Homo sapiens: one gene and its partner. The protein of the gene in region 1 binds, or shares a complex with, the protein of each later gene. Each region holds a gene or a part of one and is shown on either strand. Other genes may lie near its edges. The genes, in order: FRAT1 and GSK3B. A codon is read from its position in the direction of its gene.

Evidence for each region.
Region 2: the proteins of FRAT1 (region 1) and GSK3B are in contact, whole or in part, in a crystal structure (PDB 5OY4), measured with the Homo sapiens proteins. Residues at the interface, in NP_005470.2 of Homo sapiens: His200 (codon at 9,511), Leu202 (codon at 9,517), Leu203 (codon at 9,520), Leu206 (codon at 9,529), Val207 (codon at 9,532), Ser209 (codon at 9,538), Gly210 (codon at 9,541), Asn211 (codon at 9,544), Leu212 (codon at 9,547), Ile213 (codon at 9,550), Lys214 (codon at 9,553), Glu215 (codon at 9,556), Ala216 (codon at 9,559), Val217 (codon at 9,562), Arg219 (codon at 9,568), Leu220 (codon at 9,571), His221 (codon at 9,574); in NP_001139628.1 of Homo sapiens: Tyr216 (codon at 7,570), Ile228 (codon at 7,606), Phe229 (codon at 7,609), Ser261, Gly262, Val263, Asp264, Leu266, Val267, Ile270, Lys271, Thr275, Pro276, Ile281, Tyr288, Thr289, Glu290, Phe291, Lys292, Phe293, Pro294, Ile296.

The regions. Positions count from the first base shown.
Region 1 is NC_000010.11:97,310,541-97,327,472, forward strand, and holds FRAT1 (proto-oncogene FRAT1), read left to right. Parts: upstream 1-8,730; 5' UTR 8,731-8,913; coding exon 8,914-9,753; 3' UTR 9,754-11,375; downstream 11,376-16,932. UniProt on the Homo sapiens protein: Positively regulates the Wnt signaling pathway by stabilizing beta-catenin through the association with GSK-3. May play a role in tumor progression and collaborate with PIM1 and MYC in lymphomagenesis.
Region 2 is NC_000003.12:119,904,396-119,920,342, reverse strand, and holds part of GSK3B (glycogen synthase kinase-3 beta), read left to right. Parts: intron 1-4,168; coding exon 4,169-4,299; intron 4,300-7,532; coding exon 7,533-7,639; intron 7,640-14,490; coding exon 14,491-14,588; intron 14,589-15,947. UniProt on the Homo sapiens protein: Constitutively active protein kinase that acts as a negative regulator in the hormonal control of glucose homeostasis, Wnt signaling and regulation of transcription factors and microtubules, by phosphorylating and inactivating glycogen synthase (GYS1 or GYS2), EIF2B, CTNNB1/beta-catenin, APC, AXIN1, DPYSL2/CRMP2, JUN, NFATC1/NFATC, MAPT/TAU and MACF1.

The DNA of each region.
Region 1 (16,932 bases):
ATAATCTGAAGTCAGGAGTTAGAGACCAGCCTGACCAATATGGAGAAACCCCGTCTCTATTAAAAATACAAAATTAGCCGGTCATGGTGGCAGCATGCCTGTAATCCTAGCTACTTGGGAGGCTGAGGCAGGAGAATCGCTTGAACCCGGGAGGCAGAGGTTGTGGAGAGCCGAGATTGAGCCATTGCACTCCAGCCTGGGCAACAAGAGCGAAACTCTGTCTCAAAAAATATATATATATATTTATATACATACATAGCCCACTTATATTTCATTGACCAGAACTTAATCACATGGCCCCATTTGGCTGCAAGAGAAGATGACAAATGACCCCTTGTCTTCCCATCTCTTTGTTCTTTTGCAGGGGATAGAGATGGGTTCTTATGGTTCTGGTACAGCTACAATTTGGGGTTTATTAAAGAGGAGAGTGGTTATTGGGAGGCAAACAGCAGCCTCTGCTATAGCTACTACTTGTGTAAAATGGAGGCAGACTATAAATAAATAAACTATCTTTGAAAAGACACACAACACATGTAGTATAGTTTGCCTTTTGACTTTTGAACTATGTGGCTGTAGTGTCTACTCAAATAAGTAAAACTAGAATTAAAAAAAAATACTGCAGGCTAGCAACATGGTGAGACTTTGTCTCTACAAAAAATACAAAAATTATCCAGGCATGGTGGTGAGTGCCTATAGTCCCAGCTACTGGTGGGAGGATCACTGGAGCCTGGGAGGTTGAGGCTGCAGTGAGCCATGACTTAGCCACTGCATTCCAGCCTGGGTGACAGAGTGAGACTGGTCTTAAAAAAAAAATACTGAATGATGATACCCAACCATGTGTCTCCTGACTTACAGCTCTGTCGATACCACAGCTGTCCCAGGCATCCATATGGACACCATGCTTCTGCGGATCTAAGACTGCCTCCTCTGCAGTGAGCCAAGATGGCGCCACTGCACTCTAGCCTGGGTGACAGAGCAAGACTCTGCCTCAAAAAAAAAGGAAGAAAAAAAGACTGCCTCCTCCAGACACCTACAAGCAATCATGCGGCAAGTTTGAGCATCTACTTTTCCATTCCCATTGTCACCCAGGTAGCAAGGATGGCACAGTCCCAGAAATGGGAGAACTTACTGCTTCAGCCTACATGGAGTCATCATCATGGTCCCTGAGACTTGGTCCTAACATGGCCGTCTTTTACCTATGATCAACATACCATGAGGGGGCCGGGCACGGTGGTTCATACCTATTATCCCAGCACTGTGGGAGGATGGGCTGAGCAGAACACTTGAGCCCAGGACTTCAAGACCAGACCGGACAACATGACGAAACCCTGTCTCTACAAAAAAAATCACAAAAATTAGCCAGGTGTGGTGGTGCACACCTGTGGTTACAGCTACTTGGGAGGCTAAGGTGGGAGGATTGTTTGAGCACAGGTGGTGGAGGCTACAGTGAGCCATGATTGTGCCATTGCACACCAGCCTAAGCAACAGAGTGAGACCCTGTCTCAAAAAAATGTATATATATATATATATATGCATACACACACACACACACACACACACACACACACACACACACACCCCATGAGAGATTTATTGACCCCTTGTCTTCCCATCTCCTCGTTCTTTTGCAGGGGATAGAGATGGGGTCTTGCTGTGTTGGCTGGTCTCCAACTCTTGGGCTCAAGTGATACCCCGGCCTCAGCCTCCCAAAGTGTTGGGATTACAGGCATGAGCCCCGTGCTTGGCCTATTCACACTTGATTCCTGTTGTAATGGTAGATCTTGCTGGGTCTGTCATGACCCAACATCCATCACAGAGGTTCTCAATCACTGAGCTGCCAGCCTGAGCTGTAACCATAAAAAAATAATCTCATGCTTCTCTGTCCTTGGTGTTTCTTGGTTTGTGGCAACATGCTTGACATGGTGTTCTCCTCATGTGTCTGTGTCCAAATTTCCTTCTTTTTGTAAGGATACCAGTCCCCTCATTAGGTCCCACCCTAATCCAGTATGTCCTCATTTTAGTTTGATTACATCTGCACAGACGCTATTTCCAAATAAGGTTATACTCACAGGTTCTGGGTAGATAGAAATTTAGGGGAAGCTACTCAACCCGGTACACTATTCCAGCCTCCAACCTGAGGGGTGCATCCCTCTGAACTATCTCCCTAACCTAGAGACCTTTCTCCTTTTATAAATGACAAAATATCCTCAGGCAATGCTGTGTTAAAAATACTTTAAAAAGGCCGGGTGCAGTGGCTCACGCCTATAATTCCTGCACTTTGAGAGGCCAAGGCGGGCGGGTCACTTGAGGTTAAGAGTTCGAGAACAGCCTGGCCAACATGGTGAAACCCCGTCTCTACTAAAAATACAAAAATGAGCCAGGCATGGTGGCGGGTGCCTGTAATCCCAGCTACTCAGGAGGCTGAGGCAGGAGAATCGCTTGGAGTCCGGAGGCGGAGGCTGCAGTGAGCCGAGATTGCACCAGATAGCAAAACATTCTACACTGCTCCATCAGTGTTAGCTCTGAAGCCATCTAGTCATTTTAACTACTGGCTTCCAGACCCAACTGTTCTAACTCCCACCCCCACTCCCCACTGTCTAACCAGTGGTTTATCTTTCCTGCCCAGTCAGCAGCTTCAGGACATTTTTAACTTTTGCCTTCCATGGCTTCCTCAGCTGCTAATCTACTGAGATACGTTTATTTTATTTTATTTTTTGAGGTGGAGTGTCACTCTGTCACCCAGGCTAGAGTGCTGTGGCACAGTCTCGGCTCACTGCAACCTCTACCTCCTGGTTTCAAGTGATTCTCCTGCCTCAGCCTCCCAAGTAGCTGGGAATACAGTGGCCTGCCACCACACCCAGCTAATGTTTTTTTCTTTTTTTTTTTTTTTAGTAGAGATGGGATTTCACCATGTTGGCCAGGCTGGTCTCGAACTCCTGACCTCAGGTGATCCGCCCCCCTCAGCCTCCCAAACTGCTGTGATTACAGATGTAAGCCACTGCACCTGGCCTACTGAGAGGTGTTTAATATCTCATCCTCATCTCTTAGCATCTCAGTTTGAGTCCCGTAACCTCTCTCTCTTTTTTTTTGAGATGGAGTTTCACTCTTGTTGCCCAGGCTGGCGCCCAAGGGCATGATCTCGGCTCACTGCAACCTCCACCTCCCAGGTTCAAGCGATTCTCCTGCCTCAGCCTCCCAAGTAGCTGGGATTGCAGGTGCCCACCACCATGCCCAGCTAATTTTGTGTGTGTGTGTGTGTGTGTGTGTGTGTGTGTTGTTGTTTTTTTTTTTTAAATTTGAGACAGAGTCTCACTCTGTCACCAGGCTGGAGTGCAGTGGCACGATCTCAGCTCACTGCAACCTCTGCCTCCCAGGTTCAAGCCATTCTCCTGCCTCAGCCTCCCAAGTACTTGGTACTACAGGAGCATGTCACCACACCCGGCTATTTTTTTTTTTTTTGTACTTTTAGTAGAGATGGGGTTTCACTGTGTCAGCCAGGATGGTGTCAATCTCCTGACTTCGTGATCCGCCTGCCTCGGCCTCCCAAAGTGCTGGGATTACAGGCGTGAACCACCACGCCCAGACCCCCTTTTCTTTTTTTAGACAGTCTCACTCTGTCGCCAGGCTGGAGTGCAGTGGCGTGATCTCAGCTCACTGCAACCTCCGCCTTCCTCCCAGGTTCAAGCGATTCTCCTGCCTCAGCCTCCAGAGTAGCTAGGACTACAGGTGTGCGCCACCACACCCAGTTAATTTTTGTATTTTTAGTAGAGATGGGATTTCACCATGTTAGCCAGGATGGTCTCGATCTCTTGACCTCATGATCCACCCACCTCGGCCTACCAAAGTGCTGGGATTACAGGCCTGAGCCACTGCACCCAGCCAATTTCCCCTTTTCTATGGCTTATTGTTTCTAACACTTTATTGTAAAATTTTTCAAACAGCCAACAAAATTGAAAGAATACCCTGTTACCCAACACCTAGATCCTAGTATTTTAAAAATTGAGATATATTTCACATAACATAAAATTCAACATTTTAAAGTGTACACTTCAATAGTTTTTAGTACTGTATATTCATTATGTTGTACAAACATCACCACTAATTTCAAAACATTTTTATAACCCCAAAAAGAAAACTCTTACCCATTAGCTGTTAGTCCTAATTCCCCCCTTCTCCCATCCCCTGGCAACCACTAATCTACCTTCTGTTTCTATGGATTTGTCTATTCTGGACGTTTCATATAAATAGAATTACACAATATGTTGCCTTTCCTGTCTGATTTGTTCACTCAGCATAATGTTTTCAACATTCATTCCTTTTGTAGCATGTATCAGTACTTCATTCCTTTTTATGGTGAATAATACTCCATCGTATGAGTATACGACATTTGATTCATCCATTTATCAGCTGATGAACATCTGAGTTGTTTGCACTTTTTGACTATCATGAATAATGCTGCTATCAACATTTGTGTACACGTTTTTATGTGAACATATGTTTTCAATTTTCTCTGGTATATAGCTAAAAGTAGAATGGATGGGTCATATGGTAACATTAACATATTACTATACATGTTTTATCACATATCTACCTGTCTAACTATCCTTCTAATCCATCTATATTAATCCTTCTCACATTTTACTGTACTTTGGAATAAATTGCAAACATCAGTACACCTCACTCCAAACTCATCAGCATGTCTATTACTATAATTCAAGCTTTCTTTACAATTTATTCTCTTCATGTAAAATCTACAATTTTTTTCTCTTTGTTTTTTTGTTTTGTTTTGTTTTGTTTTTGTTTTTTGTTTTTTTGAGACAGGGTCTCACTCTACTGCCCAGGCTGGAGTGCAGTGGCACAATCTTGGCTTACTGCAACCTCTGCCTCTCGGGCTCAAGCAATTCTCCTGCCTCAATCTCCTGAGTAGCTGGGACTACAGGCATGAGCCACCATGCCCTGCTACTTGTTGTATTTTTAGTAGAGACGGGGTTTCACCATGTTGACCAGACTGGTCTCAAACTCCTGACCTCAGCTGATCTGCCCACCTCAGCCTCTCAAAGCGTTGGGATTACAGGCGTGAGCCACCGCGCCCAGCCCACTCAATGAGTTTTAACACATGCCTAAACCTATGAAACCCAAATCAAGATATCAAGATTTAGAACATGTCCACCCTCCTGCAAGTTCCCTCTGTCTGTTCAGTGTCACAGTGTCAGTCCTGCCCCTGCTCTACCTTTTCCAAAGGCAACCAGTCTTCTGATGTTTTCCCCACCGTAAGTTACTTTCCCTGTTCTAGAACTTCATATAAACAGAAACATATGACATATATCCGTTTTTATCTGGCTTCTTTCACTTAGCATACTGTTTTTAAGCTTCATTCATGTTACTGCATGCAGCAATATTCAGTCCTTTCTGTTGCTGAACTGTTTTCTGTCATCATCCTGTGTGAATGTACAATAGGTTGTTTGTCCATTCACCTGTTGATGAACACTTGGGCCATTTCACTTTTGGCTTTTATGAATAAAACTCCTTTGATGTGAGCCAACATCGTGCCACTGCACTCCAGCCTGGGCAAAAGAGGGAGACCCTGTCTCAATTAAAAAGAAAAAAAAATATGCTATGATCACCTCCCTGTAGGCCTTGATGTGGGCCCATGTGTTTATTTCTCTTAGCTAAGTATCCAGGATTGAAACTGTGTTCCAGGACAGGTGTATGTTTCATTTTATAAGAAACTGTCAGGCCTTTTTCCAAGGTGGTTGTACCATTTTTCATGCCCACAACAATATATGAGGCTTATAAGTTGTGAGCCAAAGATAAAAATGCACAAATTGTAAACTGCTACTAATTATTTTCATTTGAAAATTTTAAGTAGGCCGGGTCTGGTGGCTCATGCCTGTAAATCCCAGCACTTTGGGAGGTCGAGGCAGGCGGATCACCTGAAGTCAGGAGTTCAAGACCAGCCTGGCCAACATGGTGAAACCCCATCTCTACTAAAAATACAAAAATTAGCCAGGCATGGTGGTGCACGCCTGCAGTGTCAGCTACTTAGCAGGCTGAGGCAGGAGAACTGCTTGAACCCGGGAGGCAGAGGTTGCAGTGAGCGAAGATTGTGCCACTGCACTCCAGCCTGGACAACAGAGCAAGACTCCATCACAACAACAATAACAACAACAACAACAACAACAACAAATGCCCAACAAACCAGGAATAGAAGGGAACATTCTTAACCTGATAAATACTATCTATGAAAAATCCACAGCTAACATCCTACCTAATGTTGTGAAAGACTGAATGTTTTCATCTAAGATCAGGAATAAGACAGGGCCAGGTGCTGTGGCTCATGCCTGTAATCTTAGCACTTTAGGAAGCTGGGGTGGGCGGATCGTTTGAGCTCAGGAGTTCAAGACCTGCCCGAGCAACATGGTGAGACCCCCTGGGTCTACAAAAAATACAAAAATTAGCCAGGCATGGTGGCTTGCACCTGTAGTCCCAGCTACTCAGGAGGCTGAGATAGGAGGATCAACTGAGCCTGGGGAAGTCAAGGCTGCAGTGAGCAGAGATCATGCCACTGCACTCCAGCCTGGGCCACAGAATGAGACCCTGTCTCAAAAAAAAAAAAAAAGAAAAAAAGAAAAGAAAAAAGAAAAAGAAGAGAAGCAAAACTATCTCTATTTGTAGATGACACGATCTTCTATATAGAAAATCCTAAGGAATCCACAAAAACAAGGTGATGAACCTTATGACACCCTGTAGAAATCCAGATTTCGTAGATTAGAAATCCAATGGCTTTGTTTAAACTGTCTCTTCCTCTGTTTTTACATTTTTTCCTCCACACTTGACAAAAACAAACCCAACTCTTTTTAAACCAACTTCCCTACCTCTTTCCTGCACTCATCCCTTCCTAAAGGTTTGCTCCTATAATTATTATCGTTGGAACTGCCCAACAAGACCCTCGTTTTCTATTTATCTGGATCTCCAGGCTCATTTCTTTCTTTGTATCCTATTTTCTATATCATGCTCAGAATTTTAAAGTTGCTTCCAGGCTGGGCGCGGTGGCTCATGTCTGTAACGCCAGCATTTCGGGAGGAGGGATTGCTTGAGTCCAGGAGTTTGAGACCGGACGGGCCAACATGGCGAAACCCTGTATCCACTAAAAATACAAAAATTAGCCAGGTGTAGTGGCGCGTGCCTATTGTCCCAGCTACTCGGGAGGCTGAGGTGGGAGGATCACCTGATCCTGGGAAGTCAAGGCTGCAATCAGCCAGATCACACCACTGCACTCCAGCCTGGGTGACAGAGTGAAATTCTGTCAAAGAAAGAAAAGAAAGAGAAAGAAAAGGAAGAAAGGAAGGAAGGAAGCGTATCTCCATTTTCATCCAAACAGGTATTTTTCTCTGCTACTACGTACCTCCTCAGAGCCCATCCCCCCTACTGGTCTGAGGCTTTTTTTTAAACAACTTTCTGGACATAGCCCCTCTTAAGACTAACAACCTATAGCCAGGCGTGGTGGCTCACGCTTGTAATCCCAGGATTTTGGGAGGCCGAGGCAGGTGGATCACCTGAGGTCGGGAGTACCAGACCAGCCTGACCAATATGGAGAAACCCCATCTCTGCTAAAAACACAAAATTAGGCTGGGCATGGCGGCGCATGCCTGTAATCCCAGCAACTCGGGAGGCTGAGGCAGGAGAACTGCTTGAACCCAGGAGGCGGAAGTTGTGGTGAGCGGAGATTGCGCCATTGTACTCCAGCCTGGGCAACAAGAGCGAAACTCTGTCTCAAAAAAACAAAACAAAACAAAAAGAGTAGCAACCTAGGCCGGGCGCAGTGGCTCACGCCTGTAATCCCAGCACTTTGGGAGGCTGAGGCGGGTGGATCACCTGAGGTCAGGAGTTCGAGACCAGCCTGGCCAACATGGTGAAACCCCGTCTCTACTAAAAATACAAAAATTAGCCGGGCGTGGTGGTGGGCGCCTGTAATCCCAGCTACTCGGAAGGCTGAGGCAGGAGAATTGCTTAAACGCAGGAGGCGGAGGTTGTAGTGAGTGGAGATCGAGCCACTGCACTCCAGCCTGGGCGATAGAGCGAGACTCCGTCTCAAAAAAACAAACAAACAAATAAACAAAAAGACTAGCAACCTCCTCTCCAGCAATGCCAACCCCAGTCCAGGCCCCCATCCGCCCAGGATCTCGATCAAAAAACATTAATCTGTGGCCTTTCTTTGCCATTTCCAACTCTGCCACCTCCATCGAACGACAAGGTCCCCTTCTTCCTTTCCATTCCCGTCAGCTTCATTTCCCTAATCTCCGTACAAATCCCTAGCCTGACTCCCTTTCCTTTCCATCCTCACCAGACGCCCGCATGCCGGACCTCAAAAGCGCAAACGCTAAAAACCGGTTGAGTTGACGCACGGAGAGAAGGGGTGTGTGGGTGGGTGGGTGTGTGTTAGTGTGCGTGCTTGCTTGTGTGTGGAAGAAACCAACAGGGTTCACGCTGGTGCCCATTTCTGGAAATGCCAATCGCGCCCGACTGCGGGAGCCAGGATCAGGTCCCCAGGGCGCCCTTGCAGACAGCACCCTGAGCGAAGGAGCTCAGAAGGCAGTCCGGCTTCACCCAGACCCCCAATCCCACAGAAGCGCCGTCCCCCAGCGGCACAGCACCCCCTCCCCGGCGCGGTGGTAGGGCCCGACGTGACGTCACCCATTGTTTACAAATCAACCCGAGCCGGCAGGATTCCGGCTCCCGCGGCTGCAGGCGCGCGGCTAGAGTGCCTGGCGGGCTCCGGCTTCCGCGTCCGCCCCGGCCCCGGTCCAGACTTAGTCTTCAGCTCCGCGCCCGCTCCGCCGCGGCCCACCGCGCCCGCCGGCAGCCGAGCCCCCAGCGACGCCCGCACAGCTCCGGGTGCCCAGACAGGGGGCCATGCCGTGCCGGAGGGAGGAGGAAGAGGAAGCCGGCGAGGAGGCGGAGGGGGAGGAAGAGGAGGAGGACAGCTTCCTCCTACTGCAGCAGTCAGTGGCGCTGGGCAGCTCGGGCGAGGTGGACCGGCTGGTGGCCCAGATCGGCGAGACGCTGCAGCTGGACGCGGCGCAGCACAGCCCGGCCTCGCCGTGCGGGCCCCCGGGGGCGCCGCTGCGGGCCCCGGGGCCCCTGGCTGCGGCGGTGCCGGCGGACAAGGCCAGGTCCCCGGCGGTGCCGCTGCTGCTGCCGCCCGCGTTGGCGGAGACTGTGGGCCCGGCGCCCCCTGGGGTCCTGCGCTGCGCCCTGGGGGACCGCGGCCGCGTGCGGGGCCGCGCTGCGCCCTACTGCGTGGCCGAGCTCGCCACAGGCCCCAGCGCGCTGTCCCCACTGCCCCCTCAGGCCGACCTTGATGGGCCTCCGGGAGCTGGCAAGCAGGGCATCCCGCAGCCGCTGTCGGGTCCGTGCCGGCGAGGATGGCTCCGGGGCGCCGCCGCCTCCCGCCGCCTGCAGCAGCGACGCGGGTCCCAACCAGAAACCCGCACAGGCGACGACGACCCGCACCGGCTTCTGCAGCAGCTAGTGCTCTCTGGAAACCTCATCAAGGAGGCCGTGCGAAGGCTTCATTCGCGACGGCTGCAGTTACGTGCAAAGCTTCCCCAACGCCCGCTCCTGGGACCTCTGTCGGCCCCGGTGCATGAACCCCCTTCGCCTCGCAGCCCTCGCGCGGCCTGCAGTGACCCTGGCGCCTCCGGGAGGGCGCAGCTCAGAACTGGCGACGGCGTTCTTGTGCCTGGCAGCTAACACGCCCGGGGTGGCCACAGCGCCAGCCTCAGACTGGAGGGCAAGGGGTTCCCTTGAGGGCTGCAGTTCTACTCAGGCTGGTGGAGAACTCTGGCTTTTGGAAGCGAGAGTAAAAAGCTAATGACGAGGAACCGAAAAATCGCGAGTGTTTCGCGGGTAACTGGGGTTGAGGGCCAAAATATTTGGAATGAAGGACTTTGGCCCTATTTAAGGCAGATTTTACAGAGCGCACCTCAAACGTACAAGTCAGTAGGACTCCTTATTTGGCGTGACCCGACCTGGCCGCGGAGCCTGCATTTCCTCGCAGCCTCTCAGTGCCCTCCAGCCCCGCGACCATGTGGCCACAATCCACGCTTCTCCGGATCGCGGTGCGCCGGAACCACGGAGGATGATGCCAGTTACTTGCTTTACCTTTTCAGGGCTGGCTCCTGATCCACTTTGGGGGAGGAGAACATGAGTAGATAATTTCAGGGTGCAGCCCAATCTGCCAGACTTAAAAAAACCATCTTGTGTCTTTGGAGGTGCTGCTTAATACCAAACATGCGGTGCCATGAAGGGACCCTTTGGGGGTTGAATAGGAGTTAACCCCTGCGCTCTCTTTGCAACTGTCTCTCTTCTCAGAGTGGTGGGGGAAGGCTGTACGACACGGGTGGGGAAAGGAGGTGGGGGCGGGGAGTATTGAATGGTGGTGGAAGGGTAGAGAGGCGCGGAGTGAACCCCACGCCCTGTCTAAAGTGTATTTTCAGAGCCGGCCCGCCTCTCCTCGGTTCAAGGTCACTGTTTCCTGGGCACGCACTGGGTTGCGGGACAGAGTAGCCAGGTTCTGCCGGTGCTCGGAGAAGAGCGCAGTGTTTTGCAAGTGCTGGAGTCTCCTGAGGACACGCGCGTCGCCGCCACCGCGGGTGTGGGAAAGCGCGGACGTGCTGGGCGGCTGTGCTTCGGTAGGCGACCACCGCCCCTGGCCGCGCTCCGGGCTTTCACGGAAACTCCCGAGACCGGGCCCTGGGTTCCTCCTCTCCTACTCGGCTCTGCAGTCCTACTCAAGCGGGTGGCTCTGGGATCCTGGGGGCCTGGGTTGGGGGCTAGGGAGACGCCATGTGATGGACACTCCAGGGACACACAGCCTAGCACAGCAGCTTATAATGGGCTCTCCGGGGCCATTTGCAATAACAGCTGCAATTCCCTGGATAGACGAGTTGATTTCCTCCCTCTGCCCCTCCCCCAGCCATGCCAGCTGGCCTTTGTAAGTGCAGGAAACCGAGTAGAAAATGTGACCCTCCAAATGGAGAAGCTGCAGGCTTTGCCATTGTGAACCATGGTGAAGTGCTTGGAACATACTGTTCACTCACTCTAAAGGCGCTGAGACTGTGCTGTTGTTCTCGTTTTTATAGTCAATGGCTTGTTCATCATCCAGATGTGGCTACTGACATATCTACACTTCGCACCGGAGTGTCTGGAATTGTGGCTATCCTGATTATAGGATTTTAACTTAACTGAAATGCCTGCTTTGAATAAATGTGTTGGGTTTTTTGTTTGGTTTTATTTTATACTTGCCATCAGTGAAAAAGATGTACAGAACACATTTCTCTGATCTCCATAAACATGAAAACACTTGAAATCTCTGTCAGCCTGGCTTGTGGATGGTAATTAGAGCGCCTTTGTGTCTGAGCAGCTCACTAGCTAGACAAGGTCTCCGCAGCTGGGTGTGTATTGGAGCTGGCATGAAATTAAATGAAAGTGAGGTCAGGTTTTGGACCAATCCCATTCGTTAAAACCTCAGAGCCTTTTGGATTACTAGTCAGTGATGGAGATGTGTTATAAAGCTGCCTCTATTAGCAAAGGACATCAGATCAGCCAGTCACTGCAAACTGGGAGGCTTATCTTTTTTTTTTTCTTTTTCTTTTTTTCTTCTTTCTCACCGTGGCCATTAAGTGCACTTGTTCCACAAGGTGGGCCTTAAGGCTGGGGCAGCTCTTGATTAGGAGACTGCTCACAATGTGAGCCTGGTGGTAGGAAAGCTGGGTGGAAACTTACAAAAGACTCCTGTCTTTGCCCCTGGCACATTTATACCATTCTGTCCCTAAGCAGTGACATAACAGGCCATGTCTATCCTTATGGTTCTGACTTACTTCAGTCTGTTCCCTCATGGAAGGAGCTAATTTCCTCCCTCTGAGGAAAGAGTACCCAGAGTTTAAGCCCACTTCTGAAGTGGGAAGGGAACCTTGGACAAGTTGCTCTACCTCTGTGGCTTCAGTTTCCTCATCCGTACAACAGGGATAATGAAATAAAAGGTGGGCCAGGCCCAGTAGTTTACACCTGTAATCCTAGTAGCACTTTGGGAGGCTAAAGTGGAGGATTGCTGGAGCCCAGAAGTTCAAGACCAGCCAGGGCAACATAGTGAGACCTCACCTCTCCAAAAATAAATAGATAAATGGCCGGGCACAGTGGCTCATGCCTGCAATCCCAGCACTTTGGGAGGCCAAGAAGGGCTGATCACGAGGTCAGGAGTTCAAGACCAGCCTGACCAACATGGTGAAACCCCATCTCTACTAAAAATACAAAAATTAACTGGGCATGGTGGTGCATGCCCATAATCCCAGGTACTCAGGAGGCTGAGGCAGGAGAATCGCTTGAACCTGGGAGGCAGAGGTTGCAGTGAGCTGAGATCGCGCCACTGCACTCCAGCCTGGGCGACAGAGCGAGACTCTGTCTCAAATAAGATAAAATAAAATAAATAAATAAATGAGGCAAGAGGATTGCTTGAGCCTAGGAGTTTGAGGCTGTCGTAAGCCATGATTGAGCTACTGCACTCCCACCTGGGTGGCAGAGCAAGACCCTGCCTCAAAAAAATAAATTAATAAAAGGCATATGGTGACTGGCACATGCTGCAGATGAACAGTATCTAGTCCCTACCCCTTCCTTCCCAGGTGGCGGTGTCCCAGGTGTCCTCATTTTCCCACAAAACAAGAGCATGCCATGATCCCAAATCTGCTTTCTGGAGTGTTCTATGACTTCGAGTCCTGATTTTCTAACTTCCTTTTTGGTTCAATGCCCCATTTTCTCAAATTCACACACAGACGCTGATGGTCTCTGAGGAGTACCTTCAGAACACACCAAGCCTGCCATTTCCCACAACATGCCCAGAAAGGGCTGTGGGGGCCTCAGTCCAGTGTTCTCCAGCATGGGAAGGGTAACTATGGAGGCTCTAATACAAACTGAGGAAAAGGAGCCCCCAATAGTGTAGTGGGCACCACCTCTGGGCGCTGAGCATGAGGGGAAAGTGGCCAGGTGCTGATGTCCCCTGGCATGGGAGTAGCCCTGAAGTCCCCAGTTCCCATTCTTAGTTGATGTACGATTTATCCAAGGTCAAGGGGTTATGAGCAATCCAGGGCTTTCCATCCTGAAATAGGCTATGATTTGATGTCACTGCACCGACTGTGCATAGCTTCTTGTAATAAGAATGACTGGTTAAGTTCAGACTCAACCTTAGGGCCCATGCAGAACAACCCACTCCTAAAAAAGGAAAATTGGGAAAAACTAAAGCCTCTCTACATAAAGCAAGTTAGCACTCTAAACACATTATAATCCAGTAACCGTTCATCTGTGTTTTTATTTTTTATCTTATTTACTTATTTATTTTTGAGACAGAGTCTTGCTCTGTCACCCAGGCTGGAGTGCAATGGCGTGATCTCGGCCCACTGCAAGCTCCACCTCCTGGGTTCAAGTGATTCTCCCGCCTCAGTCTCCTGAGTAGCTGGGACTACAGGCACCCGCCATCACGCCCAGCTAATTTTTGTATATTTGTAGAGGCGGAGTTTCCCCATGTTACCCAGGCTGGTCTGGAACTCCTAACCTCAGGTGATCCGCCTGCCTCGGCCTCCCAAAGTGCTGGGATTTTAGGCGTGAGCCACCGCATCCGGCCTGTTTTTTTTTTTTTTTTTTTTTTCAAATCCTGCCAAGTTTTTTCTTTTTTTTTAGACGAAGTCTCGCTCTGTCACCCAGGCTGGAGTGCAGTGGCATGATCTCGGCTTACTGCAACCTCCACCTCCTGGGGTCACACCATTCTCCTGCCTCAGCCTCTGGAATAGCTGGGACTACAGGTGCCCGCCACCATGCCCGGCTAATTTTTTGTATTTTTAGTAGAGATGGGGTTTCACCGCGTTAGCCAGGATGGTCTCGATCTCCTGACCTCCTGATCCGCCCGCCTCGGCCTCCCAAAGTGCTGGGATTACAGGCATGAGCCACCGCACCCAGCCAAATCCTGCCAAGTTTTACTATTCACCCCAAAATACTTTTTTTGGGATAAGTCAGGATTTACATAAAGTGTGGGGTTTTTTGTTTGTTTGTTTGTTTGTGACGGGGTCTCAGTCAGTCACCCAGGAGTGCAACGGTGAGATCTCAGCTCACTGCAACCTCCACCTCCTGGACTCAAGTGATTCTCCCATCTCTTGAGTAATTGGACTACAGGTGCGTGCCACCATGCCTGGATAATTTTAAAATTTTTTATAAAGACAAGGTTTTGCCATGTTGCCCAGGCTGTTCTCAAACTCTTGGGCTCAAGCAATCCACCTGCCTCAGCCTCCCAAAGTGCTGGGATTACAAGTGTGAGCCACCTCGCCCAGCCAGGATTTACATAAAGTATTTTAAAAGTCATATTGGGGCAGACGTGGTGGCTCATGCCTGTAATCCTAGGACTCTGGGAGGTCGAGGCAGGTGGATCACCTGAGGTCAAGAGTTCAAGACCAGCGTGGCCAAAATGGGGAACCCTCGTCTCTACTAAAAATACAAAAGTTAGCTGGACGTGGTGGTGGGCATCTGTAATCCCAGCTACTAGGAGGCTGAGCCAGGAAAATCGCTTGAACCCAGGAGGTGGAGCGTGCAGTGAGCTGAGATCTCACCGTTGCACTCCAGCCTGGGCAAAAAAGAGCAAAACCTCTGTCTCAAAAAAAAAAAAAAAAAAAAAGTCATATTAGACCATTTTATAGGTGGAAAAATAGTCCAAGGAAGTGAGCAGGGAAGAATGACCTACCAAAGTTGTTTATGAAGCCAGAGGCCTAGCAGAGTCTAGAACCTAGGTCTCCCAGCTCCCAACTCAGGGCTCTTTCCAGTGGCTCCATATCATCAAACATGGTCCAATATTGTTCACTGCACAACTCTGCACATAGGCTACCATGGGAATGACATCCCTACAATTGCCCAAATTGGTGACCCTGCCATTGGAACCCTGGAAAATTCTGCTCCAAGTTCCTAGGCTGAGTTAGGGAATGCCATTTCCTTACAAAATGTTCAGCATCCTATGAAGACAGCTGGCCACAGAAAATGGCCTGGGTGAGATATGAGAACAAAGCTACAAATGGAATGAAACAAAGTGACACATACATTGGCAAATAAGTGATTTAGAGAAAAGAATGCCACACCTCACAGAGAACTCCAGAGTCTGCCACCCCAAGATTTCATTCTAAATTAGGCATACATCCGACAATATTTGGATTCAATTTTTACCCGTTTTTGCTCTTTTTCCAGCTCAGATGCAGAAAGCTGGAGCGAAGATCAGACACCACTTTCCTATCTAGCAAAGTCTATGTTGAAACCTGTGATCCCTTCCTTCCAATCAGGAAAGAGTTACCTTGGCAACGAAATTACTAACTCACTCAATTAGCCCCCACTTCTACCAATGCTCAGTAATCACAGACCATCAGCCCCCGGAGAGCTCAGCTTTCAGCAGTCTGATGCTACCGCCTCATTTAGAGATGGAAGCTCAGAGAGGTTTCCACTCCGAGGTGCGCTCCATTTGAACACTGTGAAAGCTGGTGCAGGCAAAGGGGCAAAACTCTTCCGAGTAGTGTTTCCTCCTGGTTTTCCATCATAACTGAAGGGAGAGCAATTGACCTGCCCCTACCAGTGTTACCCAAAAGACATAATAGGTAAGAGTGGGGGGTCTGCAGGCAGCCCTCCACTGTCGGCTGTGTGATATGGGACAGGTTCAGTAAGCTCAATGAACTCATTTGCAAAATGTGGGTAAGGGTAGAGCACCTTGAAGACTTGTGTGAAAATTAAATTAGAACCAAAGAGCAAATGGTATGGGAACCAAAGAGCAAATAATAAACAAAACAGAACACTGTTCCTGAGAGACGTTGCATTAAGGCCACTTCTTTGAGTCTTCTGCAGAAAACCCTGCCTCTTACTGACTTCTTCAATATTTCTTAACAGGCACAAACCTGTTTCTTCTGAAGGTCAGACCAGTTTCCTGATCATGCACCCCAGTTGCATAGGTGGGTGTTAAGGGAAGTGTAGAAGAAGGGAATAAGGGCGGAGGCGGCCGGGTGCGGTGGCTCACACCTGTAATCTCAACAATTTGGTAAACCCAGGCAGGCGGATCATGTGAGGTCATGAGTTCGAAACCAGCCTGGCCAAAATGGTGAAACCTCGTCTCTACTAAAAATACAAAAATTAGCTGGGCGTGGTGGTGCATGCTACTTGGGAGGCTGAGGCAGGAGAATCGCTTGAACTCAGGAGGCGGAGGTTACAGTGAGCTGAGATCACGCCACTGCACTCCAGCATGGGCATCTAAAAAGAGAGAGAAAAAAAGGGTGGAGCCAAGCTAAGCCTGCAAAGCAGCTCAGGGTTGGAACTGGTGGAATAGAGGGAGCAGGAATATCACAAAGGATAGGGTTGGCAGTTGGCAGTGAACACAGCCTGGGGCCACAGCTCTTAACTCCCCCATTTCCTATCAGAAAACCTATCCTTTTCCAAAATTCAAATACTCAAGTTCTACTTGCTGTCCTGTCCAGTCCTGGCTATAATCTGCACTGAGAAAACCATACAATAGGCCGGGTGCGGTGGCTCACACCTGTAATCCCAACACTTTGGGAGGCTGAGACGGGTGGATCACCTGAGGTCAAGAGTTCGAGACTAGCCTGGCCAACATGGTGAAACCCTGTCTCTACTGAAAATACAAAAATTAGCCAGGCACGGTGGCATGCGCCTGTAGTCCCAGCTACTCGGAGGGCTGAGGTAGGAGAATCGCTTGAACCCATGAGGCAGAGGCTGCAGTGAGCTGAGATGGTGCCATTGCACTCCAGCCTGGGTGGCAGAGTGAGACTCCATCTCCAAAAAAAAAAAAAAAAAAAAAAAAGAGAAAACCATGCATGCAATTTCTTCACAGGAAGTGGCCTTTGA
Region 2 (15,947 bases), on another chromosome or scaffold:
ACTTGTACCTGAGAAGCAGAGGTTGCAGTAAGCCAAGATCATGCCACTGCACTTCAGCCTGGGTGACAGAGCAAGACTTCATCTCAAAAAAATTGAATAATTCCTCTCTGTGTGATGATGTTCCATTAAGCATTTGTTTGTTTCAGTTTACTTTTATTATAGATTGTGGTTTTCTAAATTTTCAAATAAAATTTACTTTAAAATTCATATAAAATATTTATACATAGTTCAAAGCAAGATTGACAAAACAAGGTATGTTCAAAGAAGTTCAGCTTTTATCTCTGTTCCCTCTGCTCTGTTCCTTTCCTCTACCAGTGTTAAGTATTTTTTAAGTGTTCATAATTTATCCTACCATTTTTAAAATAAGCAAACATGCAGTTATTCTTACTCTTTTTATATAAATGGTTACATAAGGTACACATTTTTCTCTTTTTTTTCAGTTAAAAATATGTCCTAGAGATCAGTCCATATTTTCGTGTGTGTGTGTGTGTGTGTCACCTTCTTTATGGCTACCATATTACTTCATCATGTGGCTGTATTCTAGTTAATTCACCCAGTGACCAATAATGCACATATTGTTTTCCTCTTGTTTTTTGTTGTGGTTTTTTTGGTTTTTGCTATAGTGAACAACCCTGTGCACTTACGGTATTTTTGCCAGCAAATAGTTGAGCTAGATATCTGGCATCCTGTATTTTAAAAAAGAAAATAAAATTATTGTACATACTGAAGTTGGCATACAGAGAGAAATCTAGCACTCCTTTCTTTCTCCCCCTTGTGGGAAAAGGGATGATTTTTCTTTTTTTTTTTTTTCTTTTTTTTTTTTCTTATGTAACCACAGCGCTTTCAGAGGCCAGATCTATTGGCTCTGGGCATTATTCTTTGGGGACATCGATCCCTTTTATCTGAAAAGATAAAAACAGTGTCTGGAATTGATGAGTTATGAGTTGATCTCCTTCACGTAGTCATTCTACATAGTTTTATTGTAATCCTATTGTATGAAAAATGTTAGATTGTGAGAGCGATATAAAAGTAGTAAATGCAAGTAACTCTTGCCTTCATGAACCTCATCATCTGATAAGGACTTGTTTGGCATACATGTTACCAGAATGGCAACTGCATTTCTTTATAATTGCCTTTCACTTTTTCTGGGAGAGTTGAGTATTTTCTATGAGTAATACACAGGTTAAAAACTGAGCACCTTTGCTTTTCTGATGAGTATATTTCAGAACTTAAGTAGGTTTTAAAATGCAACTCTAAAACAGATGACTGGCAAATCATTGTTGTGAACTTAATTTTTTTTTAATTGAAAATACATGTTTAAGGACAGGGTCTGATCACACAAGAGAGTTGGATGCATTTTTTGAATCATGAACAAAATTGTTATTACTTGTTTTAACATGTATTCTATTGTTTTATTATTTTATTACTTCAGATATTATGGCACAGAGAAGAGGGCATTGGATTTGAGTTAAATATAACTAACTGTTCAAATTGTGCTCAACTGCAAAATACATTCCTTTCTGTGATATTTTGTCCTGTAACTGAAGCATAGTAATTGTTTTATGGAAATGTTAACAGTTTTGTACCAACTTTGAATAAAATGAAAAATAAAAAAAATTGTTTTCATTGAACCTCAATATCTTCTGTAAAAACAGGGATAATGTGTATCTCAGAGTGGTTGCAAGAATTAACTAAACAAATAGGCAAATAGGCAGAAATGCTTTTCTTGGTTTGGCACTTAGTATATGTTAAATCTGTTATATTTTAAAGTGTGTTAATTATATTTGAGTTTCTAAGAATTAATCATTCTAGTCTTTTATTTAGCCACCAAACTGCTTTTTTTTTGTTTTGTTTTGTTTTTGTTTTTTTGAGAGAGAGAGAATTCCGCTCTGTGGCCCAGGCTGGAGTGCAGTGGTGCATTCTGGGTTCACTGCAACCTCTATCTCCCGGGTCCAAGCAATTCTCCTGCCCCAGCCTTCCGAGCTGGGATTACAGGCGTGCACCACCAAGACCGGCTAATTTTTTGCATTTTAGTAGAGACGGGGTTTCACCATGTTGCCCCCAGGGTGGTCTCGAACTCCTGAGCTCAGGCAACCCGCCTGCCTTGGTCTCCCAAAGTGCTAGGGTTATAGGTGTGAGCCACCGCGCCCGGCCTCCACCAAGCTATTTAATGATTATATTTTACACCTTTATTTAATAAAATATGGCAAAATACATAAATAGTAATTGAAAGAGAAGCACTTACTCAAACCACTACAGAATATTGTGTGTGTGTGATATTGAGCAAGTTGCTTAATCTCTCTGGGCCTCAGTTATTTTATATTTAAAATGGTAATAATATTAGTACTTATTACATAAGGTTATTATAAGGAGTAAGTGAAATAATACACATAAAGCAGTTAGAACAGTGCCCAGCCCATGATAAGTTGTTTTTCTGTTCTTGTTTTTGCTATCATTCTAGTCTAGAAAGCCTCTCAGCTTTCTTATAAATACACTTTTACAAAGTGAAATAACAACAAATATATAATATTGCATATTTCATTCTTTATCTTGACTTTTCTAGATAAACTTTTCAAAACAATGAAGATAGAGTAGATCTTTCAGATGAAAGAATACAGTAAAAAGACATCTTAAAATTAACCTCATTTAAACGATTAAGCTTTTTTTTTTTAAAAAAAAAAAAGAAAACTCGTTTTCACTGATTCTTGCAGACCTAGACATCAATACCCTGACACAGTAAAATCTCTTTTTTTAGTAAATTTATGCCTATGAACTCAGTTTCTTATGGGAGGTTATCTTTTTAGTGGTAATGAATTAAACTCCTACAGTAAGCTTTAGGACTTAGAAATGGATTCTGTGAATGATGGTACAATAATAGAACTATGAAGTTTTTAAAAAATGTTACATGGATACCTAAATGCCTTAATTTTAACTTTGTTGGCAAAATGCTGACCTTATAAAAGATCTTATCTGTACAGTTTACATCTTGCTTCATTTTAAAGAAAACATAAACTTTTCCAGCTAATAGTTCACATTAACTTCAAGGATGTACTAAAATTCAGCTGTCTGCAGTTTTCACCATGCTTCTTAGAATGAAAGTAGGTTTCATGTTAACTTTAATTAACCTAAGCCTTAGCAGTAGCTTTTAAAGATGGTGCCATATGTCAATGCTTCATTAGACTTTTAAGTATCTTTTTTTTTAATTGTTTTTTTACCAAGATATTTATTATCTTTGGTTTGACTCATTTCAAAAATTCTGTCCATGGTGTAACTTTGGGGTAGAGGTCAGAAGGTAAACAGCCAGAAAAGTTTAAAAGTGAATCAGAACACTGACCTTGAGATAAACAGAAGGTTTAAATTATACTCTCTTCGTCCATGAAGTTTCTCTCTCCTCCAGTCAAGAGTCTGATTCTTTACTCCATGCAGACCCAGTTTCTCAGTGTATCTTTTTGGTAAGAAAACTGAGAAAGTCTTCTCTTTTGAAAGATGATGTCAATAGTCAGGCATCTGTTTTTGAATGTCATTTTGAATTATACTTTTTCTGAAGGATATTAACAGGAAGAATGGTGATGCTACTAACAGGGTTATTGATGTCTTGATAGAGCAGTGATTACAGATTTTCTCAGTCCACATGAGTTTTCCTAGACCACTGTATCAATCACCTTGGAGGCTGACATCTCAGAAGAATATTCTAAAGATCACACTTTGGAAATACGTTTACATTCAGCAGCATGCTCTACTAGAAAGAACTATAAACTTAAAAATCAGGAGACCTGGTTTCTGGCCCAAAGTTACTGATTATTCATGATTTGGGGTGCCTCTCTGAGCTTTTCATTTGTGTTTTAAATAAAAGCCCATCTTAGCAGGCTTGTAATGTGAGATGTTAGTAAAATTAAAAGTTATAAAGCACATTGTAAAATTTTCTTCTTTTGAGTTATTAAAGAATGAAGCGAATAGTACATATGGTTAATGACAGTTTAGCTAATTCATATAGAAATAGCTAATTAATACAGAAGTGACACAAAACTTGTGAAAGGAAGATTGAGTGCCAGTAATCCATAGCATTTCACCTGTTCTTTTCTGAGAATCTGTTACTTTATTGACTGCTTAAGGATTCTGATTTGTTTAGAATAGGAAGTATTTAATTAATTTCTACTATCTATTCCAGTTGTATATGTATCAGCTGTTCCGAAGTTTAGCCTATATCCATTCCTTTGGAATCTGCCATCGGGATATTAAACCGCAGAACCTCTTGTTGGATCCTGATACTGCTGTATTAAAACTCTGTGACTTTGGAAGGTAAGCTACTGTCCCTCTCCCTGCCCCTTCCCTTTTCCCCTCCTCCCCCTACTATCTTCTTTTAAATATATTCCTTTTGCAATATCAGCCTAAACACAGTAATTCTTATTCAAGAAGTATAAACTAGTGCAGCTGTGAGAGTAGTTTTGTTAGTTTCTGTCAAAATTATAAATGTATATACTCCTTCATTTAACAGTTTAACTTTTAGGAATTATTTCCTTAGGAATACATATTTACAATACAGTGTATATATAGGGATTTTTATTATAGCATTGTTTATAAGCATCCATTAGTAGGAAAATGGCTAAATAAATTACGGTACATGCAGAGTAATACATGCAACCATGAAAAAGAATGAGGCAACTCTCTGTGAACTGAAAGGGAATGATGTCTAGGAAACATTAAATGAAGAAAGCAAGATCAAGAGTATATGTATTGTATGCCACCTTTTATGTTTTAAAAACATACAGAATGTGACTATATATATATATATGTACACACACACATATATACACAAGTACATGTGTGGCTTATTTCTGAAATGGTACGTAATCCATAATATTTGATTGCCTGAGAAAGGATCTTTGGGAATATAATGTAGTTGGGAAACTCACTTTTTCATTGATTGTATTTTAGTATTGTTTGAATTTACATTAGGTATATATACTCCTTTTTCAGTAAGAACTAAATTTTTTCAAAATATTGATTATTATACATTCCTGTGTATCTTTTTAACTTCACAATTAACCTCAATTCAGGGATGAGATAAAAAACAATGCAGTGTTTTCTTCATTTTCCTCTATAATTTAACCTTTTATTCCACCCTTTTTCCTGCAAATTTCATCAAACTTTCTGCTTTTAAAAGCTCATTTCTTGGTAATATACTGTGAATTTGTAATACAACTTTATTCTTTCCATTTTCAGTTTTCAGTACTTTGTGCCTCTCTGATCTAACCTTTTAACATGTAGTCAAGCCTACATTCCCATGTAACTCAGGCAGTTACCCCGCTACTTCCTCACTGGTGTAATCACCTAATCTCTCTCCTCATGGTCCCTAAGACATCTTTACATAATTTGGATTCTCTCCAATTTAATTTTTTCACCCTTGTTACAGATTCTTTTCACCATAGCTCTATAGATAACATATTGCCCCACACTTGTTAATACCTGTGTTCCTATCCCTTTGTAATACTTTTACATCAATTCACAGTTTAAATTTGGGGTTTAACATAGGATATGTTTTCCACAGGCTTCTCTTGAGACAGATCCTTTAAAAAATAAGTAAATCTGTTCTGTCATGAGTTAATTTTTCTTAGTCTCACAATGTGTCCTCTTTCAGACTGTCCTCATTTTACTGTTTTCTAATTTCAGATGACCTATCACTTTGCAGGCCATGACTCTGTTCCCTGAACTATTTTTAAAAAGGGTGAAAGATAGTAAAACTCTTACCTGGTGTTTGAAACAAAGCACTACTACTTGTCTATAGGAAAAACTGCCCAAATCAGATATGTTTTATTGTTAATGGGGTGTCTTCACCATTGAGAGTGACTGACTTGGTAGGGACAGACTGAGACACCAAGGTTAGAAGAGCTTCTGTTCTCATATAGTGTCAAAACACTTGGTACAGCCCATTCTCTTGGGACATAAAATAGCTTTATTCTGATAAATTTGGAAGAGGGATTTCGCTTGTTTGATAGCTCATTTTTATAAACCCTCTGATTTTTTTGTTTTTAACAAAATTGGTTTGGTCAGATGGAGTTTGGGAAACACTTTGGACTGTACATTATCAGATTGGTAATTTGAACAAAATACTATTACTTTCTTCTTATTTTTTTACTAGATGAAAAGGGGCCAAAAAGTAGCTAAAGAACTAGTTGGGCTATTTAGGAACAAAAAGCTAGATGTGATCACAATATTGGGAAGTAGTTAAAACCAGTCTCCTCTGTAAGAGAGGCTGCTCCGTTTTTGTAGCTCCATCAGGTAGTGAAAAAACTTCAGGCTACAAAGCTTGGGTATTAACGTTTTGTCTCGTAATGAATTTTCTGAACATAATTAGCATCTATCTTGTTAATTAAAAAGCATCCTTTAGAAGATATAACAGTCTCCTATCAATTATGCTGAAAACTAAATGTCATAATTTTCATGCAGCCTAAAAACAGGGATTAGTATTTATTAATTTATGAAATGGTTATTGTATGTCAGTACTTGGGGAGAGGGTTAAAAAACAAACTTCAAAACTAGTGATGAAGGAAAAAGAAGTTAAGGTTAGAGTCATCATTGACTAGAAATAAATGGAAGAAAAGAAATCCCAGTCATTGAAATCCTTGTGACTACTTTCATCTGTCTTTACCCTGGTTTTCCAGTACCTTTACTTTTTTTTTTTGGCACTTACTGTTTTACTGTTTTGATTTTGTTGCATTTTGTCCCTTTATTTATCTTTATTATTAATGTATGTCAGAATGGCTGGCTTCTACAGCAGTTTATTTTATTCTGTCTTTGGATTATCTTGGGCGACATCTCAAAAGAAATTAATTGTAATTTATTATACTTCATATTTAAAATACATGCAATGAAGTATTTTAGTAGGAAAATTGGAATAAGAAAACATGCAATTATACTTACTATAGCAGAGTTAGAATTTATAGGCAGTGAATCATTTCTGCCCTGAAGTTGAAGGGCCTGTTTATAATTTATTGGGTAATAAATGTTTATGTGGTTAATAAATTGACCAAGATATGGAAAAATAGATTGAGTCTATAAGCCTTGAAATATTCGCCGTGAGTCAGAAGTCAAAATGCAAGACAGTGGCCAGTTTCTCACCCTTTTTAAAGAAATACATTGGGTGAGGAGTATTCATTCTTAGAATCCATTGTCATGCTTTTTGGTGGGGGAGGTACCTCTTTTCTGCCCTTGCTTCTTTGTATTTTAGAGGTGGAATTTGGGGAACAGAGGATCAGAAGAAATTCAACACTTATCCTTTTTTGCTTTTGGTGCCTTCTTAGGTGACAAACGCTTTCTTTAAAAATTGCTATTCTTTTTTGCAGAGCAAGGTGATAAAATTGTAAATTTCTTTTATTAGAGATAGTTACAGTTTACATTTTCTTTTTCATATATGATTCAAATGATGTGAATCTTATAAAATCATTTGATACTGTGAAAGGATAGCAGTCTAAGTTCTTTAAGGTTTAGATTTAAAGAATTTCTGCTTTTTATTTTTATTTTTTTTCTGTTAGTGCAAAGCAGCTGGTCCGAGGAGAACCCAATGTTTCGTATATCTGTTCTCGGTACTATAGGGCACCAGAGTTGATCTTTGGAGCCACTGATTATACCTCTAGTATAGGTAAGTACAAATCTGAATATAATGCTCATAATTATTAATTGCTTCTTGATTTTGGTAATTTAGTACTACTAATCTGTACTTTTATTTCCATGGAAAGATGGATATATCCCATAATGTTTTTTTTCTTAAAGCTTGAGATGCAAACATGTATAGGCATACCTCATTTTATTATACTTTCCAGGCACTGCTTTTTTTTTTTTAACCTCTCAAAGGTTTGTGTCAACCCTGAGTCAAGCAAGTCTGCCCACACTAGTTTTATAAGAGCATGTGCTCACTTCATGTCTTTGTGTCATCATGTCTTTGTGTCACATTTTGGTAATTATTGCAACATTTCAAACATTCTCATTGTATCTGCTATGGTGATCTATGATCAGTGGTCTTTGATGTTACTATTGTAATTGTTTTGGTTTGCCACAAACCACAACAATATAAGACAGCAAACTTAATCGATCGGTGTTGTGTATGTTATGAATATTCCACCAGCTGGCCATTCCCCATCTCTCTTCCTATCCTCAGGCCTCCCTATTCCCTGAGAGACAACAATATTGAAATTAGGCCAATTAATAACTCTGCAGTTGCCTCTAAGTGTTCAAGTGAAAGGTACATTTTTCACTTTTAATCAAAAGCTAGAAATGATTAAGCTGAGCAAGGAAGGCATATCGAAATTGTGCCACACAGTTAGCCAAGTTGTGACCAGAAAGGAAAAGTTCTTAAAGGAAATTAAAGTGCTACTCCAATGAACAGATGAATGATAAGAAAGTGAAACAGCCTTATTGCTGTTACAGGGAAAGTTTTAGTGGTTTGGATAGATCAAACCAACCACAACATTCACTTGAGCCAAAGCCTAACCCAGCAAGGCCTGAACTCCCTTCAATTCTGTGAAGACAGAGAGGTGAGGAAGCTACACAAGAAAAATCTGAAGGTAGCAGAGGTTATTTCATGAGGATTAAGGGTAAAAAGCTGCACCATGCCATAAAAGTGCAAGGCAAGCAGCAAGTGCTGATGTAGAAGCTGCAGCAAGTTATCCAGAAGATCTAACTAAGATCATCGATGAAGGTGGCTACATTAAACATCAGAGTTTTAATGGAGACCAAATAGCCTTCTACTGAATTGGAAGAAGATACCGTTTAGGACTTTCATCTCTAGATTTTCTAGAGATGGAAGACTTCTTCTAGAGAGGAGAAGTGTCATTGCCTGGCTTCAAAGCTTCTAAGGACAGGTTGACTCTCTTGTGAGGGCCTAATGTAGCTGGTGACTTTTAAGTGCAAGCCACTGCTCATTTACCATTCCAGAAATCCTAGGGCCCTTAAGAATGATGCTGAATGTATTCTGCCTGTGCTGCATAAATGGAGCAACAATGAGTGGATGATAGCACATCTGTTTATAGCATGGTTCACTGAATATTTGAAGCCCACTGCTGAGACCTACTACTCCAGAGAAGAGTATTTCTTTCAAAATATTACTGCTTATGGACAGTGCAACTGGTCACCCAAAGGTTGAGAAATACATTTGTAAGGCTATAGCTGCCCTAGATAGTGATTAGTCTGATGGATCTGGGCAAAGTCAATTTTAAATCTTCTGGAAAGGATTCACCATTCTAGGTGTCACTAAGAACATTTGTGACTCAATCACATGAACAACATTTTGGAAGAAGTTGATTCCAAGCCTCATGGGTGACCTTGAGGCATTCTAGACTTCAGTGAAGGAAGTCTCTGCAGATGTTGTGGAACTAGCAAGAGAACTAGAATTAGAAGTGGAGCCTGAAGATGTGACTGAACTGCTGCAATCTCATGATGAAACATAAACAAGTTGCTTCTTTTATGGATGAGCAAAGAAAGTGGTTTCTTGAGGTGGAATCTACTAGTGGTTAAGACGCTGTGAATATTGTTGAAATGACAACAAAGGATTTAGAATATTACATAATTGTAGTTGATAAAGCAGCAGCAGGGGTTGAGAGGACTGACTCCCATTTTGAAAGTGGTTCTAATGTGGGTAAAATGCTATCAAAGAGCATCTCCTACTAGAGAAAAATCTTTCATGAAGGGAAGAGTCAGTTGATGTGGCAAACTTCATTGTCACTTTAAGAAATTACTCCAGCCACATCGTATAGCCTTCAGCAACTGCCACCCTGATCAGTCAGCAGCCATCGACATCAAGGCAAGACCCTCTGCCAGCAAAAAGATTACAACTCACTGAAGGCTTAGATGATCATTAGCATTTTTTTTTAGTAATAAAGTGTGTTTAAGTTAATGTATTACATTTATGTTTTTATACAATTCTATTATACAAGTAATAGACTACAGTATAGAGTGAACATACCTTTTATATGCACTGGGATACCAGAAAATTGGTGAGACTTGCTTTATTGTGTCTTATTGTTATGGTCTGGAACCAGTTCTGCAACATCTCTGACGTATGCCTGTATAGAATTTTTCAAATTCTACTTTTTAGAATTTAAGGTATACCTACTATTCTATTTTTCTTCCTTGGACTGTTAGAATCATAAAGCTAATAGCTTTTACCTTAAGAATTTAAATTAATTCTAAGTAACTTTTTTTTACTTTCTTATTTAAAATCCTCCTGAAATACTTCTGAGCATGATTATACTAGTTGGATAATTTATTAATTAATGTTATTTCATTAAGTTAATAATGAAAGTGATAGTATGGCCATATTGCTAACATTTCCTTCATGCCATCTCCATTATTTAATATAAAATCAGCTTAAATCACTAGTAGTTTTGCTAGATGCACTGATTCTGCAGAAGTATGCACCCAAGATGTTTAGTCATAGAAGGAACTGAATAGAGACCATTAGCTTTAATCATCATTGACCTTCTCAAGTCTTCACCCCAGATGTTTAGTGATAGGAGGAACTGAATAGAGACCATTAGCTTTAATCATCATTGACCTTCTCAAGTCTTCACCCCAGATGTTTAGTGATAGGAGGAACTGAATAGAGACCATTAGCTTTAATCATCATTGACCTTCTCAAGTCTTCACCCAAGATGTTTAGTGATAGAAGGAACTGAATAGAGACCATTAGCTTTAATCATCATTGACCTTCTCAAGTCGTCACCCAAGATGTTTAGTGATAGAAGGAACTGAATAGAGACCATTAGCTTTAATCATTATTGACCTTCTCTTTTACTACATCTTAGCCCACTAGCCAGGAGTGAACAGAGAGAGCATGATCAGCTGGACATGAATAGGAAGCTAACAAACAAGGAGCAACTTTAAGCTGGATGTGCAAGTGGAAACCAAAATTATTTTACTCTTACATATTGTTTCTGAAGAGAATTCCTTTAGTCCAGAAACAAACAAAAGCATGCAAATAATAAACCAAAAACATCCCCACAGTAACAGAAAACCAAAACAAACAAAAAACAGACCTGGCCTGGTGCAGTGGCTCACACCTGTAATCCCAGCACTTTGGGAGGCTGAGGTGGGCAGATCACTTGAACTCAGGAGTTCGAGACCAGCCTGGGCAACATGGTGAAAACCTGTCACTACCAAAAATTAGCCGGGCGTGGTGACATGCCCCTGTAGTCCCCGCTACTTGGGAGGATGAGGTGGGAGGATGGCTTGAGGCCAGGAGGCAGAGGTTGCAGTGAGCTGAGACTCCACCACTGCACTCCAGCTCGGTGACAGAATGAGACCCCCCCTCTCAAAACAACAACAGCAACAACAAAAAATAGAACAGACCTTGTGACAGTTTTTTTGTCTTTTTGATATAAATAGAAATTCTCTGATACAAGCAAACACCCTAATCAGAAACACATTATCATTTTTTATTTTGCCAAATGGCAAAATGCCAAAGCACATTTTGATTTCTGCCAAGAGGCCAGCAGTTTTACCCACCATTTCCTTTGTACCCTCAGTACAAATGTTAACCCAGTGAAGGTGTATTCTTATGAAAAGAGTTTTGCCCTCTGGGACATCTAGAAATGTCTAGAGGACCCAGGTGCAAAGAGTACAAAGTGTCCTCTGTAGACCACACTTTGACATCTGCTTTACCAGAGGGTAGAGAGCATAATAATGTGTATATGTATGTGTATGTAATTCTCAGAGTCTTAGTATGGCTGTGGTACATGGCATATATGAATGGACAGATGAAAAATAGTACAAAGAATATTTTGCTTGTGGTCGACCTGGGTTTGAGTGTCAGGTCACTTGAAGTAAAGTGGAGATTACTGACAGTTCTTTTCTGAGTGGCTGTGAGGCTTAAATAAAATGTTAGTGAAAATACTGTAGAAATGAAAGGTGGTATTCTTTTGTGGCATTTTTAGACTTGACTCTCCCCAAGAGCAAATTTCAGCCCCTTGTCTTTGGGTATGTCATTGGATTTTCCAGCTGCTTTACATTTTATTCAAATATATGATACTGATTATCTGTATATAAGATACTGGTGTGAGCTGTGCCAGAAACACCTAAAATAAAGGCAGTTTGATTGTTCTCAAAAAGTTAACACATCATCTCACACATTAAGGAACAGTTATATAAACAGGAGTCTTTTGAACCCTAGCAAGCCTAGGTTTGGCTTCCCATTATAAACTTAGGATACTTGCCTCTTAAGACTGTAATGTTTTTAAACAGACCCTCCCAAAAAGTATACTAATATTGTTACATTTTTAAATGTTTTTAACAGTAATGTTTGAAATGAAAGAGTAACTGTTTCTGACAAGATTATTGTCATATTTAGATACAGCCAGAGGTAAAGCTGATGTCTCTGATTATATTATCTTACTGACAAATGGCAGAATGAGAACAAAAGGCTTCCTTAGAACAAGGAATTGAACTTACAGACAGACCCTTGAAGAAGCTGTTATTCTGTGACAGTGAGACAGTTATTCAAGAGAGTGGTGTTTTGATTGGGAATTGAGAATGATTCCAGGCCTAGCTCTACTATTCAGTACCTTTACCTTGGGCAAGTCGTTTAACTTTATCATGTCTTAATTTCCTTATCTATGAAATAAGTGTGTTAAACTAGATGGTCTTGAAAGATCACTTTAACATGAACCCGAGTTAAATATGAAACAAAATGCTATTCTGGCTTTAACCCCAACTAACTAAAATTCAGTGTGCCAAAGCACTATTTCTATTTTTCCGGTACCTTCTATTTAGTTGAAGTTTTATTCTATCTGGAGAATTTCATCCATTTGTCCTTTGAAGTAAGAGCAGAAGAGATTTTAGTGTCCTCCAGAAAGTGATTGATAAGTACCTTGTTTTTACTAACTTGACTGATGTAACATGAATTGAGGGCTGCTAGTATAGTTGTCACCTGAATCTTTTGAGTGTCAGTCTTCTGTGATAACTTCTAGGCAAGAGTATTCCTTGATGTTTTACTTTTTGTCTTCCATATTTGTAGCTAAATCTTACCTAAGAAAGTGTTTCCTATTGTTTTTTATGAAGGCATAATTATTCCCTTACAATTTTTTCAGCCTTGTATCTGAGATGAATCATTCCGTATTAGAGAGGAAAAAAGTTGAGTGCATATTACCTTCCATCTTATTAACTAGGTAAAGGGATGTTTTAAAACTTAGATTAAAATAAGCATTTACATAAATAAGGAGATACATCTTTTCCGCTTGACTATAACAGTTAGTATTACTATTGGCTTTGAGTAAAGATTCCCTAACAAGTTTTCATATGTGCTTAATTTAGCAATTTCCTAATATATTAAATAGGACTCTTGGTCTATATTTGCAGAATAGATGTCTTGGTTATTAAGTTAGGACTGGACAAAATCAACTCGAGTTTGTTAAATGATACTATGTCATTTTTCTAGGTCAATAAAAAGTAGTCACTGGAGCAACGATTTCCAGTCTCTCTTGATAGTACATCTCACCACATCAGACCTTTAAAATTTTTTGTTGTCAACCATTTACTGTTCCTTCTTCTCCTTCCGTACTGGTAGGTGGTAAAGTCCAGCAATGATTCATATTCGTCTCCCTAAAGCACTTGAGTGTTGGTACATTAAAAACCTAGGAATCTCAGAAATCTGGAAGCTAAAAAGCAGCCTTTTCTTGTAGGAAGTCTTAATAGCGGGCTTTAAAATAGAGTGACCGTACGGTTTATCTTCTAATCCGATAATACTTTTGAGAGAGAAAGAGGTGTTACTAATAATTATCCCAGGACAACATATAAACCATAACTATCCTGGGTAAACCAGGATGTATACTTTAAAGTATTTTTAAAGTGTATTAATTGAGTTAATTTTTAGAGTTTTCTCTCCGGATTGAGGTTTTCATTTTGACTTAAAAGTGGATTATTTTTATAATTTATGAAGTAAAATGTATTCCTCCATCATTGCTATTCCATTTTATTTAAAAATGATATATTTAAGCACATTTTTCTGTCAGTCATCGTAGAACATAAAAATCAACCATTTAAAGTCTTAAAAGTGTTCCTCAGAATTTGCACTGACTTAAAGCCCAGTGTCTGGGAGAGATTGAACCTTTCCTTGCTGCTCCTCTGTAAGTACCTACTAATATGCAGACGTTGTGTCACTTTGACTTATTTTTAAGTAAGATAAATAGATAGTCCTGCCATAGCTTTGGTACTGTAATCCTCTGTCTAGTTATTTGAAGACTTGAATACCTGAAATTTGATAATAATAGACTTTACCCTTTATTAGAATATTCTTATTGGTCTGGTTTCCTCTTTGGTAAGTTTAACATTTAATTAAAAAGTACATTAAGGAAGTTTGATGACTTTTTCTCTGTTTTGGATTGTATAATCTTTTCCTGTGATATTTACTCTGTGATCAAAGTAAAATTAGAAAACGTATACAAACACTTTTCAGCTCAAGCTATGAAGTATTAATAAGGCTTCGTTTTCTTTTCTCTTTAGATGTATGGTCTGCTGGCTGTGTGTTGGCTGAGCTGTTACTAGGACAACCAATATTTCCAGGGGATAGTGGTGTGGATCAGTTGGTAGAAATAATCAAGGTGAGAAGGTTGAATCAGAATATTTGAACTGGAAGGAATTTTTGTGCTACTTTAATAATATATATCACACATGTACACATACGAGAAACTTAAAAAATGGAGGAAGCAATCCAAGGTCACGTAGCAAGTTCAGCTATAAAGTGGGTATAAGAACGCCCCCCCAGCCTTTTGGTTTTTATTTGAGTTACTCTTCTCTTGTATGATCCTAGAAAAGCTATTATGTATATCTGATGCAAGAAAGGTATATATCTGTTATTTAAAGTACTTAAAAGCAAAATTAGACTATAAGCTCACTAAAATGTATGTAAGCTGAATAAAAGCAGAAGCTGTGTCTGCTTTTGCTCACTGTATACTCCCTGCTCCTAATACTCTGTGGAGCACATAGGAGATACTTGTATTTGGTCACTATTTATATTTATTCAGTATTTATAAAATGAAAGAATGAATGCCTACCTGTCTGGCTAGATCATTGATAGAAACAAAATTTTGACTTATGGATTTAATATAATTTTATTTATTGGGTCTATATGAATTTAATATAATTTTATTTATTTTAAATTTTATTTAAAGCTGAATAAAGATATGTCTGGTTTTGCTCAGACACAGCTTCTGCTTTCATTCAGCTTTGCATACATACACCTTTATTAACAAATATTTAAATATTATCTTAGAATATATGTTTTCTTTTAAGAACAGTAGAGCTGAGATTTTAATTGAGTTTTTAAATGTAATTTTTTTAAGTTTTAAATATTTGAGATCTTAAAGGAAGTCCCTTTACTTAAAAAAAAAAAAAAAACCTAGTGTCTAGATTTATATCACTAGATTGTTTCATTCTAAGGTTTCAGTTTGGACAAAGCAACAACACCTACTGTCTCTGGGGCTTTGTTTGTGATATCCCAAATTTTGCATAGAATTGTAAAATTGAAAAATCTCCTTAGAGGTCATGTTGTCCAATGTACAATAAAATAACCTTTTAGTTACATTCCTAACAAATGGTTTTCTAGTATTTTCTTGAACACTTCCAGCATCAGATTACTACTTAGGGATGCAGCTTATTCTGTATTGGACAGCTTGAATTTAGTTTTTATTGTACTGAGCTGTAACTCCTCAGTAGCTTCTACCAGTTGAACATAGGACTGTGATCAAGTTCTTTTCAAATCCTTGTACTTCATTCTATAAAAATAGGAATTTTAAAAATCAAAGGTGGTTTTGCTAGATGTCAGTGTGTGCAAGTATGGTTGAAAAGACTAGTGTGTAATAAGCGATCTTCTTTATTATCCATATAATTTCTTACAATTTGCAGCTTAGACCACTGTGGTATTTGCATCTTCTTTTTGGTACCATTTTTGAGTTTCCTAT